4 linked regions of the Homo sapiens genome follow. The protein of the gene in region 1 purifies or fractionates together with the protein of each later gene. This does not show direct contact. Each region holds a gene or a part of one and is shown on either strand. Other genes may lie near its edges.

The links. The genes of interacting proteins can lie anywhere in the genome.
Region 2: the proteins of CRAMP1 (region 1) and GTF2IRD1 purify together in Homo sapiens (affinity purification with mass spectrometry; one large-scale study listed by BioGRID and IntAct). This does not show direct contact.
Region 3: the proteins of CRAMP1 (region 1) and PPP4R2 purify together in Homo sapiens (affinity purification with mass spectrometry; 2 studies listed by BioGRID and IntAct, with this or other methods). This does not show direct contact.
Region 4: the proteins of CRAMP1 (region 1) and CPNE7 purify together in Homo sapiens (affinity purification with mass spectrometry; one large-scale study listed by BioGRID and IntAct). This does not show direct contact.

The regions. Positions count from the first base shown.
Region 1 is NC_000016.10:1,618,799-1,622,560, forward strand, and holds part of CRAMP1 (protein cramped-like), read left to right. Parts: intron 1-3,762.
Region 2 is NC_000007.14:74,516,311-74,520,072, reverse strand, and holds part of GTF2IRD1 (general transcription factor II-I repeat domain-containing protein 1), read right to left. Parts: intron 1,935-3,762; coding exon 1,751-1,934; intron 665-1,750; coding exon 354-664; intron 1-353. UniProt on the Homo sapiens protein: May be a transcription regulator involved in cell-cycle progression and skeletal muscle differentiation. May repress GTF2I transcriptional functions, by preventing its nuclear residency, or by inhibiting its transcriptional activation.
Region 3 is NC_000003.12:73,045,216-73,048,977, forward strand, and holds part of PPP4R2 (serine/threonine-protein phosphatase 4 regulatory subunit 2), read left to right. Parts: intron 1-1,970; coding exon 1,971-2,141; intron 2,142-3,762. UniProt on the Homo sapiens protein: Regulatory subunit of serine/threonine-protein phosphatase 4 (PP4). May regulate the activity of PPP4C at centrosomal microtubule organizing centers.
Region 4 is NC_000016.10:89,592,663-89,595,418, reverse strand, and holds part of CPNE7 (copine-7), read right to left. Parts: exon of another isoform or gene 1,455-2,756; intron 53-1,454; coding exon 1-52. UniProt on the Homo sapiens protein: Calcium-dependent phospholipid-binding protein that may play a role in calcium-mediated intracellular processes.

The DNA.
Region 1 (3,762 bases):
GTTGGAGGCTGCAGTGAGCTGTGGACATTGCACTCCAGCCTGGGTGACACAACAAGACCCTGTTTCAAAAACAAAACAAAACCAAAAAAGATAAAGTAGGTAAGGCAAAATTTGAACATTGGTTTGAAGGCTGAGCTGCTTTTCAAATACCTGTATACTTTTGGTATTAAAACTAGTTTCTGTGGTGTCTGTTGTTGTGAAGTTGTCTAATGAGGTAGACTTTTCGATTTTCATTTTTGTATCTTATTGTGGCTTATGTAAGGATATAACAGGGAGATGATTCATGATTGCAAAGTCAGAAATGTGAAAATTAACATCGTTGTATAAAGTGGTGTGTAGAAGCTCTTTGTCACATAAGTAACAACAGCGGGGTTTTGTTTTTTGTTTTTGTTTTGTTTTTGAGACGGAGTCTCATTCTGTCGCCTGGGCTTGAGTGCAGTGCTGCGATCTCAACTCACTGCAATCTCCGCCTCACAGGTTCAAGCAATTCTCCTGTCTCAGCCTCCTGAGGAGCTGGGACTACAGGCGCATGCTGCTACACCCGACTAATTTTTTTTATTTTAGTAGAGATGGGGTTTTACCGTATGGCCCAGGCTGGTCTCGAACTCCTGAGCTCAGGTGATCCGCCTGCCTCGGCCTCCCAAAGTGCTAGGATTTCAGGCGTGAGCCACTGCGCCCGGCACAACAGCGTTTTTAACACTAAAGAACCACGTTAGAAACACTGAAAAAAGGAGACATTTCCAGGAGTTTGTAGTTTAGTTGGGATATCTTGCAATACCTACAGGATACAATTAGAAAATCTGCTGGTATTTCATGAAGAGGGCATACGCTTTTATACAAACAGTGGAGTTCTAGTTGTATTTCTCTCAAATATTTGTAGGAGGGGAAAGGGAGAATCTTCAAGAGAGACAGCGCTGGTCAGAGCATGCAGGAGGACGCTGAGCCTTGCAGGCACTGAGGGTGGGAGTCCCGGCAGAGAAGGGGACAGTATGAGTGACTCCCAGAGGGTGTCGTGGAGACCATTAGGTTTTAGGTCAGCTTCAGAACCTGGAAGAGGACATCTCAGAGTCTGGCGACCCTGACCAGGGCTCTTGCAGGCACGCCTGGAGTGTGGACCAGATCTTTAGATTGATGGGACAATGCGAGGTCAGGAGGGGTCCCGGTTTGCTCACCGACTGCCTGTCGTATAGGATGGAGCGACACCACTGCGTGTGCATGACGATGGAGCTGGGTAGGGGAGGCTCAGAACTCATCCGAGATGACACCTTGCCTGCGGCTTGGCTTGCTTGAAGGGTCCCCCCATGTGACCTTGGAGATGGTATCCACCAAGCCCTCACCCACAACTCTGGCTCCAAGACCAGAGCTGCTGGCACCAGCATCTGATGCGATGTCTTGTGTTAGGAGAGGCACGGAATGCCTCAGGAGACTTGGAGGTGGACGCGTTGGACCTCTGCAGTTTCTGCGCCATCCTTGGCCTCCTGGGAAGGGTCCCTGCTGTCTTATGCTGCAGACGTAGGCCATGAGGACGTTTCCCGGTGCTGGGGTTGGGGCACGGTCAAGTCTGGAGATGCCCTTCCACGAGCGGGTGTCGCCAGTGCCTTTCTAGCTGAGAAATGAGTGAAGCATGGGGGAGACGGGTGTGTTCACTGCAGTCCTCTCACCTCCAGACCAGACGCTGACTCCCTCGCAGTTGGTGTTCTGTCACTCTTGATTTTACTATTCCTAACCCTCTGAAGGAAGTTCACCAAACCACAGAAAGAGTGCTCCAGGACAGTGAATTGATGTTAGAGATGATGACAGGGTGTCACTGGGCTTCTGCGTCTGACCTCTCACGTCCAGACAGACATCTTCCAAAGGCCCAGCTCTGGCTGTCTATTAGCCGCGTGCCTTTCGGTGAGTCATTTAACTTCTCACCTTTCCCAGGCTGAGGGAGGGACTTTGAGGTTGGTTTCCCCCACCACGACCCTGATCCTCCAGCTCTGTGACAGGACAGTGTGCGCTGCTTGGCTTTCAGAGCTGTTCTGACGGCACGGCATGGGAAACGCCTGGGTTTGGAGTGAGAAGGTTGCGTGGTTCTTGCTGCCTGGTGACTTCGGGGCTTCTAAAGCCTCAGTTTCCCCCATTTCATTTTTTTTTTTACATGACATAATGCTATTAATAATTTCTGAAAGTTTCCCCATTTCTAAAATGGAGATAACTACCCATTGCGAGGACAGGAAGAAGCAGGGCATTTGAATGCATTTTAAGGTGCCATTTAAATACAGGTTCTGTTACTTCCAGGCCTGCTGGGCACTGAGCAGCTGTGTGGCTTTGTGGGTGACCTACTCAGCCCGTGCCTCAGCTTCCCCAGTTGAAAGATATGGATACTTTTTCTTCTTAAGGTGATATGAAGGGGTGCAGGTGGTGGCATTCCAGACCAACCCAGGACATGTGATGGGGAAGAGGACGTGTTGCAAAGAATAGGTGGTAGGGCCTGTCTGGAGCTAGGTAGAGGGGCCAGCAGCTGGGAGGGTGCGCTGGGGCCACATGGCTGTGCCCTCACTGCACCGTCTGCACAGCAGGCTGTGGCAGGTGCTAGGGGTTTGGGAGACCTGAGAAGAGGCTGTTGAAATTGTCTTACTTGGGCGGCAGAGAGCTGGCTTGGGAAACAGGCGGTGCGGATGGGAAGGGGAAAGCAGGTGGCAGTGTGGCCTCTGGAGAACTGTGGCGCTGACACGGGCTAAGCAGGAAGGTGGGTTCCATTTGGGAGGACCTGGGTCCCAGCAGCCTGGGGTGTGCTGTCTGGGGCTGCCGAGGGGCAGAGGGAGCTTGGGGAGGCCCTTTATCTAGGCTCCGTGGGACCCTGTGCTGTCACTGAGCACTTGCTGTGTGTGAGGCCTGGGACCAGGCTTGGGTGTGGGGAAGTTCCACACGGTTCTTGCTTTCAAAGAGTGCACTGTTGGCGATCCTGCTTCTGCACCCCACTTCCCTGCAGGCTTCTCGATGGTTCTCCTCATTGTGCAGACCACACTCAGCCTCTGTGGGCTCAGCAACAGTCACAGATGGACCTGGCTTTGGCCTTCTGCTTTTCGCTGGGTGTCCTGCACCCAGAGAAGCCCACCTAGTTTTGTTTACATCATCTTACCTTTCCGTCTCTTGCCTTTCTCCTCCCATTTTTCTTGTTGCTTCTCTGTCTTCCCCTTCAGTCATCACCTTCTGTTTTCATCTGAATTTCTCTGAGCTGAGTCAGGTGGCCTCACACAGGCTGTCATCGTATTCTACCAGGTGTCTCTGGTCCCACTTTCTATTTCATTTCGCTTGAGCTGTACTCAGTGAGCCGAGGTCAAGCAGTGAAGCCACTTCTGCATCTGAAATTTTAGGGGTGAACCAGAGGCCACCTTCAGTTTCTGCTCTGAAGTTTGTGATTGTTTTTTAAAAAGCATTCCAAGTTTAGGCCGGGCGCAGTGGCCCATGCCTGTAACCCTAGCACTTTGAGAGGCTGAGGCGGGAGGATTATCTGAGTTCAGGAGCTCGTGACCAGCCTGAGCAACATGGTGAAACCCCGTCTCTACTAAAGTACAAAAAAATTAGCCATTGTGGTGGTGTGCACCCATAATCCCAGCTACTCGAGAGGCTGGGTGCCGGAATTGACTGCCTGGGAGGCAGAGCTTGCAGTAAGCCAGGATTGCACCACTGCACTCCAGCCTGGGTGACAGAGCAAGACTCCTTACACAACAGCAACCAAAAAAGCACTCCAAGTCTAGAATAATGGGCACCAAATAT
Region 2 (3,762 bases), on another chromosome or scaffold:
TCACCCAGGCTGGAGTGCAGAGGTGTGCAATCATAGCTCAATGCAGCCTCAAACTCCTGGGCTCAGGTGATCCTCCTGCCTCAGCCTCCCGAGTAGCTGGGACCCAGGGAGTCCTCGCAGGCGTCCTCTTAGTCCAAGGCCAAGGACATCATTCACAGATGGCTGAGCAGAGACCCAAGGTCCAAGGGGGTCTCAGCCAGGACACCATCTGTCCAGTCCCACTCCCATGCCCAGACATGGCTCCTTCCAACCTAAGAGGGCCCAGGCATCCTGACCTGCCCTGGGAGGCTGTCCCCTGCATGAGTGACCTCTGTCCCACCCCCTAGACTTGGAGATCCCAGCAGCAATGTTACCACAACAGTCGGAGAAGTCTTGGGCACCGGTGGCCTTGGGCTCTGGCATGGGCCGACTCAGGCCCAGGTCGCTGGGGGCAAGGGGGCAGGAAGGTGCTTCCTGCTTGAGCTCTCGGATGGCGTGGTTGGGGAGCGCCGTGCTGTACAGGAAGCTGGCCATGGAGGAGGAGGTGGCGGTTGGGGGCAGGTCCTGGGGTGGCACCTTGGGGGCCTGGCCATGCAGGCCACAGTCCCGTGACCCCTTGGGAATCAGGGAGACACCGTTCAGCTCCACCAGGGCCTTCGAGTCCCGCCCGCCATCCTCAAGTGGCCTGAGTAAAGGAGAGGACACATGGACAGCTTTGTACATCTGTTTCACACATTGCAGCTCTTCCCCCGAAAACCCCGCATCCCTGCCCTCTGCAGAACATAACAGCCCCATGAGGAGGGCAGGACAGGAGCTGCTCTTCCACTTCACAAGTGGGGATGCAGGCTCGGAGGTGGGAATGGTGTGCCCAGGGCCACAGAGCTAGGCCACCGGAGGACCTGGGCCCTGCCCCTCTGCTCCAATCCACTGTTCAGATCCCGCCAGGTGCGGTTGATTGCCTCCTGTCTCCTGCTGCACCCCTCCCCTTCCTGCCTCTGCATTGCCTGGGGCACTTAGCAGAGATGGGTTCAACCTTAAGCCCTCAGGCTGCCTTCTTGGCTCTCCTGACAACTGGTACTGCCTCAGACCAGCCTCAACAACCTAATCTCCCCTGGATCCCTAATTAACCCCAGATTTACAACCTGAGCAAGCACAGGACATGGTTCTCCCGTTTCTGACACCTAAAATGCCATATTTTTTTTTTAAGAGATGGGGTCTTGCTCTGTTGCCCATGCTGGAGTGCAGTGACGCAATCACAGCTCACTGCATCCTCAAACTCCTGGGCTCAAGCAAGCCTCCTGCCTCAGCCTCCTGAACAGCTGAGATGACAGGTGTGCACCACCACACCTGGGTAATTTTTTTTATTTTTATTTTTTGGCAGAGACAGGGTCTTGGTATGTTGCCCAGGCTGGTCTTGAACTCCTGGCCTCAAGTGATCCTCCCACCTCAGCCTCCCAAAGTGCTGAGATTACAGGCATGAGCTACTGTACCCGACCACTTTGGTGCTATTTTGTCCCAAGTCATGTCTCTTCAAGTCTCTCTGCAATGCAACTTCCCTGGGAAGACTTCAAGGCTTAATGACCTGGCTCAGATCCTGTTCTATGACTTCGCTTTCACTTCACCTCCACCATCAGACTGGGAGCTTTCACCACCAGGGTCCCCCACGGGCATCTCAAGTCCCTTCCCCTCTGGCTAAGTGGCCTCCAGCCCCCGGCCCTGACCCGGCCCTGGCCCAGCCCCAGCCCAGCCCCGGGCCGGCTACCTCACTCACCTCTTGAGCTTGAAGCGGATGCGGTGGCTGTGTTCCAGGATGGCCATGAGGGCCTTGGGGTCATACTCGGCTGGCCTTCGGAAGGCCAGGCCTTCGGGCAGCCCCTGCACGGCCAGCAGCCCTGGCTCCCTGAGCAGCCTCTCATAGGGCAGTGGCACCACACTGGCCCTTCCCAGGGCCTCGCCTGTAGGGGAGAGTCCAGGAGAGGGGCCTGGTATGAGAGGGCAGCCAGGCTGGGGTCGGGGCTGCTGTGCCCCAGAGTGGGGGCAGTGCTGAGTGGCTCCCCTTGGTGCGGGGTTCCCATGGACCCCTCATAACTGCAGACTTTGTGCAGAATAACCGCCTGCAGGCTGGGGGTGGGTGGTGTGGACAAGGCCCAATTGTCTGCATCTGGGGGGCTGGGGCTCCCCCACCAAGCAGGTTCCCTGCTGCCCTCCCCGACCAAGCCCCTCTCCACTCTGGGCACCTGGCTGGAGGGGAAATCGGGGACTCAAGGGCCCAGAGGACAGAGCAGAGGCAGACAATCCGGTAGGAGAAAAGAGGGCAGAAGAGACGGAGAAGTGGGGACTTGCATGAGCCAGGCTGCAAGGAAAAAGCTATAAGGGCTGGGCGTGGTGGCTCACGCCTGTCATCCCAGCATTTTGGGAGGCTGAGGAGGGAGGATCACTTGAGGCCAGGAGTTCGAGACCAGCCTGGCCAACATGATGAAACCCCGTCTCTACTAAAAATACAAAAATTAGCTGGGTGTGGTGGTGCATGCCTGTAATCCCAGCTACTTGGGAGGCTGAGGCAGGAGAATCGCTTGAACCCGGGAGGTGGGTTGCAGTGAGCCGCTGCACTCCAGCCTGGGTAACAGAACGAGAATCCATCTCAAAAAAAAAAAAAAAAAAAAAAAGGTGTAGGGAGGAAGGGAGAGAGACCGAGAGGGGGGAGAGAAAGTAAGAAGAAGAGGAAGTGGAGAGGGAGCAAAAATAGGGGATTGAGAAAAAGATGGGAGAGGCTGGGCGTGGTGGCTCACGCCTGTAATCCCAGCACTTTGGGATTACCGAGGCAGGTGGATCACTTGAGGTCAGGAGTTTGAGACCAGCCTGGCCAACATGGTGAAACCCCGTCTCTACTAAAAATATAAAAATTATCCAGGTGTGGTGGCAGGTGCCTGTAATCCCAGCTACTCAGGAGGCTGAGGCAGGAGAATTGCTTGAACCCAGGAGGGGGAGGTTGTAATGAGCCGAGATCATGCCATTGCACTCCAGCCTGGGCAACAGAGTGAAACTTCATCTCAAAACAACAACAACAACAACAACAACAACAACAACAACAAAGACAGGAGAGAGGAGAAAGAGACAGACTGAGAAGACGCAGGAACAAAGATGGGGGCTCGGGGGCACAGAGGAGGGGAGGCAGGCTGGGGACTGAGGACTGGGCACTGGGATATCTGTTGTCACCTCCATGCTACAGCCCCCACCCTGAGCCAGAAAGAGGCCCATCCTCTCATAGCCTCCTTGAATTCTGCCCAAAGTGGACAAGGGGGGCCAGGGCAAGGCGGGCAGGGGCGCGGGGCCCTGCAGCTGGCAAAAGTGTCGACAGAGGCACAGCCAACCATGCGTGGCAAGTCCCCCATCCCAGGGTGGCCAGTGTGACCACCCAGGGCCTCTGGGTACCCCTCCTTCTGACATAAGAACAGCAGAAGTTTCCTCACAGACCTTTGCTCCATAAAACCAAAGGCTACAGTAGGAGAAGGGATAAAGCCAAATCAGAAATGAATGAGGTGGGACCCTGAGCACCAAAGGGACCTGCCCGATGTTTCCCAGGGCGTGTGAAGACCACCACTGGGGCCCTGAGGCCCTCTGCAACCTGACGCTTCCCAAGGGAGGCCAGGTCTCCTCTTCCTGCAGGAAAGACATGGCTGAGCAATCAGCCTTCACTTAGTCATTCAACAAACATTCTCCAAGCACCTGCTGTTGCTGGGCTCTGAACTGTAGGCTGGAGACAGCTAGAAAGGGCAGACACAG
Region 3 (3,762 bases), on another chromosome or scaffold:
TGGCTTCCAACTCCTGGGCCCAAGTGATCTTCCTGTCTCGGCTTCCCAAAGTGCTGGGATTACAGGCGTGAGCCACCACACCTGGCCTCGTATAATATTTTTATGTCGACACTGGTTGCCTTCAGAATATTTTGGGACTATATCAGGAAGCTTTCAAGCTCACAGTGAAGAATAAAAATTGTCCAGACTTTTAGTTTTTTGCTTAGAAGTTCAAATTTTTATCATTGGTAACAAATACTGTCAGTTATTTATCTTGAAATGACAGGTTCACTTTATTTATTTTTGAGAAAATGTCTACCACATTCTCCTAATTTTTTTTTTTTTTTTGGAAATGGAGTCTTGCTCATCGCCCGGGCTGGCGTGCAGTGATGCAATCCTCAGCTCACTACAACCTCCACCTCCTCAGTTCAAGTGATTCTCCTTGCCTCAGCCTCCTGTGTAGCTGGGATTACAGGCATGCACCACCCCGCCTGGCTAATTTTTGTATTTTTAGTAAAGACAGGGTTTCACCATGTTGGCCAGGCTGATCTCGAACTCCTGACCTCAGGTGATCCGCCTGCTGGGTTTACAGGTGTGAGCCATCACACCCAGTCTGCTAATCTAAATAAGCTTTATTTGTGTGGCAGTCCTTTCAGGTTAAAATGCTGTTCTATGAAAAATAGCTAGTTCAGCTGGCAGCGGTCTAAATAAAGGTATTGTTCTTTGAGAATCTCATACCTCTTTGATATGCAGCATAATTTTTTTAATACCTGTTTCTCATTTTGTTACACAGAATATGTAAAAGATGTATTCAAGGGTTGGGATTTAATGAAATTAGTAATTTTTATATCTTTTACACTTTAAGTGGAACAGATTTTTAAAATTACGAGTTTGTGAAAATTCTGGCTTCTGCTACAGCTAGTAATACAGTTTGGTGCTGCTGTCCTGACTCTTGCTACATGGATTATCAGTTTTATCCACCTTGCTTTTATACCATCAGTGCACACATTAACAGTGAACTAGTCAGCCCTTATTCTTTTGACAATAGCTTTGACCTCTTGGACCACAATTTGAAAACTGCTACCCTAGTTTATAGGGTTGCTGCATGGGATGGAAGGTGATTACAGATGGGCTCCCGTTAATTTGTGTAAATTTGTTTAAGTAGTCAACCTGTGTAAAGAGATTGATCTGCTGTCACTAATGGTAGTACTGTCTGCCTGAGGAAATGGTTAGCATTCCTGACTCCCGTGTCTCCTGGAATTTACACTATTCAGGCAGGTATCCTCACAAAATTTCCTTTTATATTACTGGTGAAATGTGAGGAAAGAGGGATAAAAAGGTGTTTATGTTAATTTGATAAATGAATAGATGTGAAAAGTACCTAAGCAAATTATGTATTTTTATTGTGCAAGTACTGGTTGGATAGAACCTGTGATTATGTGCCTTAATCATAGGTACATGCCTTTTGTCTCTTAAGTGACAAAAGAGCCTGAAGATATTAACTGAAAGGGGAAAAAAAAGGAGAAAGTAAAGTTTATTTTGTTATTTAGTAGATAATAGACAAATTTTACTAGTCCATGCAAACATTGTAACTTGGATGATTAAGGTATGGATTCATTCTGACTTAATAGGATAGTGTAACTAATGCCCACCTGGTTAGGTTTGTTATGAGTGAAAGAGTCAAAATATTATTTTAAACATACTAAGAATAGGACCTAACACACCATAGACTTTCAGGCAGAGGTAGTTCATTTAAAAGATCTAAATGAGAGATCTGGGTTTTGTTTGGGTTGGGAGTTGGATAGCATCAGGATGGAGCTTGTGATAAATGAGGCATGATGTGTGCTCTTCAATGACGGCATTCTCATTACTAATTATTCACATCTTAATTTTGTTAGTATTAGTGTCATAGTATATTTTATATTTGTGTTTTGTGTTCAAGAATTGTGAAGCTACATGGTATTATATATTTTTTAATTTTTTGCTTATAGGATTCAGTGGTCCCAATTTAAAGGCTATTTTATTTTCAAACTGGAGAAAGTGATGGATGATTTCAGAACTTCAGCTCCTGAGCCAAGAGGTCCTCCCAACCCTAATGTCGAATATATTCCCTTTGATGAAATGAAGGAAAGAATACTGAAAATTGTCACTGGATTTAATGGGTATGCACTTAATACTGTTTTAAAGATTTAATTTTTAGCAGAAGATGAATAGATTTTTCTTTTAGTTTTGATGTGTCTGGTTGATGATTGATTATCCATTAGAATAAATTCCTTGTTTCTAGTGACATGTAGTAGTTGATGATTTTTAGCTTACAACTATTTAAAATATTTGTAGCCTCTTAAAAAACTTGAACCACCTTTTTATAGGTATCAGTGGAAACAGTCATTTATCAGGAAACATTTTAATGGTTTTTCTTTCCTGTTTTATATTTGGTGTTATGTCTTCATACTTTATATAGAACCTTTATATCATTGAGAAATCACATTTCTTTTAAAACGAAATACTAATTTATGGAAGTATTTTAGTGAGTTTTTGTTTAGACTTTTTTTGGAGTCATCATTTCTCTCCTAAGTAACGGCTTGCTTGTTAGTTACAAGTAACCATTTTTGGCCGCTTGTAAAACATTAAAAACACTAAAAAGATATTCTGTACAAAAGTAAAACTCCCCGGTTTTTTTGTTTTGTTTTGTTTGTTTTTGAGAAGGTGTCTCGCTCTGTCACCTAGGCTGGAATACAGTGGCGTGATCTTGGCTCGCTGCAGTCTCTGTCTCCTGGGTTCAAGCAATTCTCCTCCCTCAGCTTCGCGAGTAACTGAGACTGTAGGCGCATGCCACCACACCCGGCTAATTTTTGTATTTTTAGTAGAGACAGGGTTTCACCATGTTAGCCAGGATGGTCTCGATCTCCTGACCTCATGATCCGCCTGCCTCGGCCTCCCAAAGTGCTGGAATTACAGGCGTGAGCCACCACGCCCGGCAGTACTCATTTTTAAAGAAATGTTACTGTGTCTCATACTCTGTCATTTTAAATTCTATTTTTGTAGGACTTTGTTTTTTGTTTTATTTTGTTTTGTTTTGAGACAGAGTCTCGCTGTCACCCAGGGTGGAGTGCAGTGGCATGATCTCGGCTCACCGCAACCTCCGCCTGCCAGGTTCAAGCAATTCTGCCTCAGCCCCCCGGGTAGCTAGGCTAGGACCACAGGTGCGCGCCACGGTGCTCGGCTAATTTTTTTATTTTTTAATAGAGATGGGGTTTCACCATGCTGGCCAGGCTGGTCTCCAACTCCTGACCTTGTGATCCGCCCACCTCAGCCTCCCACAGTGTTGGGATTACAGGCGTGAGCCCCCGCGCCCAGCCAGGACTTTGTATTTTTACGGTTTCCTTTATTGAAGGGAAGAAGTGTTTGTGAAGTTGAATTATTCGATATTTAGTTTGGCGTTAACTTAGGGTGTGGAACAACAATACCAAATATAATGAATTGTGGTTTTTCTAACCAGTGAATTCATAGTTAGAATTAGATAGTATTTGAAGGGTTTCAGTTGTATTTTTAGATGGCATAAATGGCTTGATTCTTTAGGTATTTAATTGCATGGGATTTTGAAATAAGATAGTGTAATCCAGTTAACGGTTTGCTTTATATCATATTCCACTGTTTTTAGGTTTAAGAATTTTGCTTGAAATGTCAAACCCTTAGGCCTTGACTTGGGGTCTGTTACAAAAATATTTTGTGGGGGAGAAATCATAGCTTTTGTCTTTGAGGTTCATCAGTTATAGTTACCCC
Region 4 (2,756 bases), about 88 Mb from region 1:
CGGCCATGTCGGTCACCACGCCGTCCGTCAGGATCAGCAGGATGTAGTATTGCTGGGGGCACAGGAAAGGCATCAGCAACACCACACCTGCCATGGCCCACATGCGCCCTGCAACCCACGGGCCCCCAGACAGCCCAGAGTGCCTCCGTGCGTCAGAGCTTCCTAGAACCGCCTTCAGAGTGTGATGCCTACATCACAAACATCACGAACAACAGTGGGTCAGGAGCCCCCTCCGTGGCGGGCACTCTGGGCCTCCTGTGCCCAGCTCAGGAAATCTCCACGAGTCTCACGGAGGGCTGTGGAGGGGGTGCTACGAAGTCTACATTTTACTGATGAGCTCACAGTGCCTGGATGGGAGGTCTGAGGCCAGAGGAGAAATCTGCGATCCCAGGAGCCAGACCTGCAGCCCACACACCCTGCTCCAGTCTCTCCAGGGTGCCCGCTGTGCTGCCACAAGACTGAGTGTTGGCCGGACGCGGTGGTTCACGCCTGTAATCTCAGCACTTTGGGAGGCCGAGGCGGGCGGATCACCTGAGGTCAGGAGTTCGAGACCAGCCTGGCCAAAATGGTGAAACCCCATCTCTACTAAAAATACAAAAACTAGCTGGGCGTGGTGGTGGGCGCCTGTAATCCCAGCTATTCGGGAGGCTGAGGCATGAGAATCGCTTGAACTTGGGAGGCAGAGGGTGCAGTGAGCTGAGATCGCGCCATTGCACTTCAGCCTGGCGATAGAGTGAGACTGTCTCCAAAAAAAAAAAAAAAAAAAAAAAAAAAAAGGCAGAATGGAACTTCAAATAAAATCAACTTCCATTGTTTAAAAAAAACCCCACTCAATAATCTTGCCCAAACTGTGGACAACGGGAAACATAAAGAGAAGCAGGGCTCGCCTGAGCAGCAGAGCGGGAGCCCACAGCAGCCTCCCCTGGGCTGGCCTTGACTGAGCCCGTCCCACTGAGGGCAGATGTGTCCTGGAAACGAACAGGGGCCCCAGGACCCCACTCAGAGTCGCCTTCTCCAAGAGGCTCTCTTTTTGTGCCCTCCCCATCTCCCCCTCTCTGAGCCCCACACCTGTGGGAAGAATTACCTGTTTGCAAGGCAGTCTCTGGTCCAGGCCTACAAGCACCCACGGCTGTGCCCAGCCTGGCTCTCGGCCTCCAGATAAACAGCCCAGCCTCAGAAAGCCCCCCACCCCCTCCCAACCCCAGATGAGGCCCCCACCCCCCTCTGCCAACTGTGCGAGCACCAGGCACCAAAACCCACCGTGGGGCCCCACTAGGGCGGGAGCTTCGTGTCCAGGAGAGGGACCGAGGGCTCAGCTGATCATGTCTGAGTCCTCGTTTCAACCCAATTCTAACCACAGAAAACCATGTCACGGGTAAGACAACAGGAAACACAAACACCAGACGGATGTGCAATGCCAGGAGTGGTGGTTAGGTGTGATCAGGTGTCGTGGCTGCTTAAAAAGAGGCTTATCTTTATTAGACGCTGATACTGACATTTACAGATGAAACCGTCTGAGACCCGCTTCCCAGCCACACAGGAACATAACAGCTGAACGCAATCCTCGACTCCGGACTGGCTCCTGGGCCAGGAACAATACTGCTTTGAAAGTTATGATTGTGCCAATGAATGAAATTGGAATATAGTCTATGTATTAGATAAAAGGATTGTATCTAAATTCAATTTCCTGAAATCTGTATTTGTGCTATGGTTATACAAGAGAATATCTTTGATCTTAGGAAATATACACTGAAATAGTAAGAGGTAGGCCGGGCGCGGTGGCTCACGCCTGTAATCCCAGCACTTTGGGAGGCCGAGGTGGGCGGATCACGAGGTCAGGAGATCGAGACCATCCTGGCTAACACAGTGAAACCCCGTCTCTACTAAAAATACAAAAAATTAGCCGGGCGTGGTGGCGGGCGCCTGTAGTCCCAGCTATTTGGGAGGCTGAGGCAGGAGAATGGCGTGAACCCGGGAGGCGGAGCTTGCAGTGAACCAAGATCGCGCCACTGCACTCCAGCCTGGGTGAAGAGCGAGACTCCATCTCAAAAAAAAAAAAATATTAAGAGGTAAAACCGTGATGTTGCAACGTGCTCTCGGACGGTTCACAAATGTGTGTGTGCAGTGCCAAGTTTTTTAAAAAGCATCAAAGTCTTTATCACGATACTATCTGTATAAATTAAAAATAGATGCAAACAGATATAGGGTTCCCATTTGGCTTGAAGATGTAAGTAGACGGGTGATGTTTGATCATCATGAATGTACCTCGTGCCTCTGAACTGGATACAATAAAATGGTTACAGGCCAGGTGCGGCGGCTCACACCTGTAATCCCATCCCAGCACTTTGGGAGGCTGAGGCAGGCAGATCACTTGAGGTCAGGAGTTTGAGACCAGCCTGGCCAAGACAGTGAAACCCCATCTCTACAAAAATATAAAAATTAGCCGGGTATGGTGGCGGGCGCCTGTACTCCCAGCTACTCAGGAGGCTGAGTCAGGAGAATGGCGTGAACCCGGGAGGCGGAGCTTGCAGTGAGCCGAGATCACGTCACTGCACTCCAGCCTGGGTGACAAGAGTAAAACTCCATCTCAAAAAAAAAAAAAAAAAAAGAAAAGAAAAAAATGGTTACAATGGTAAATTTTAAACTGTGCATATTTTATCACAATAAAAAAAATTTGGGCTGGGCGCGGTGGCTCACTCCTGTAATCCCAGCACTTTGGGAGGCCGAGGCGGGTGGATCACAAGGTCAGGAGTTTA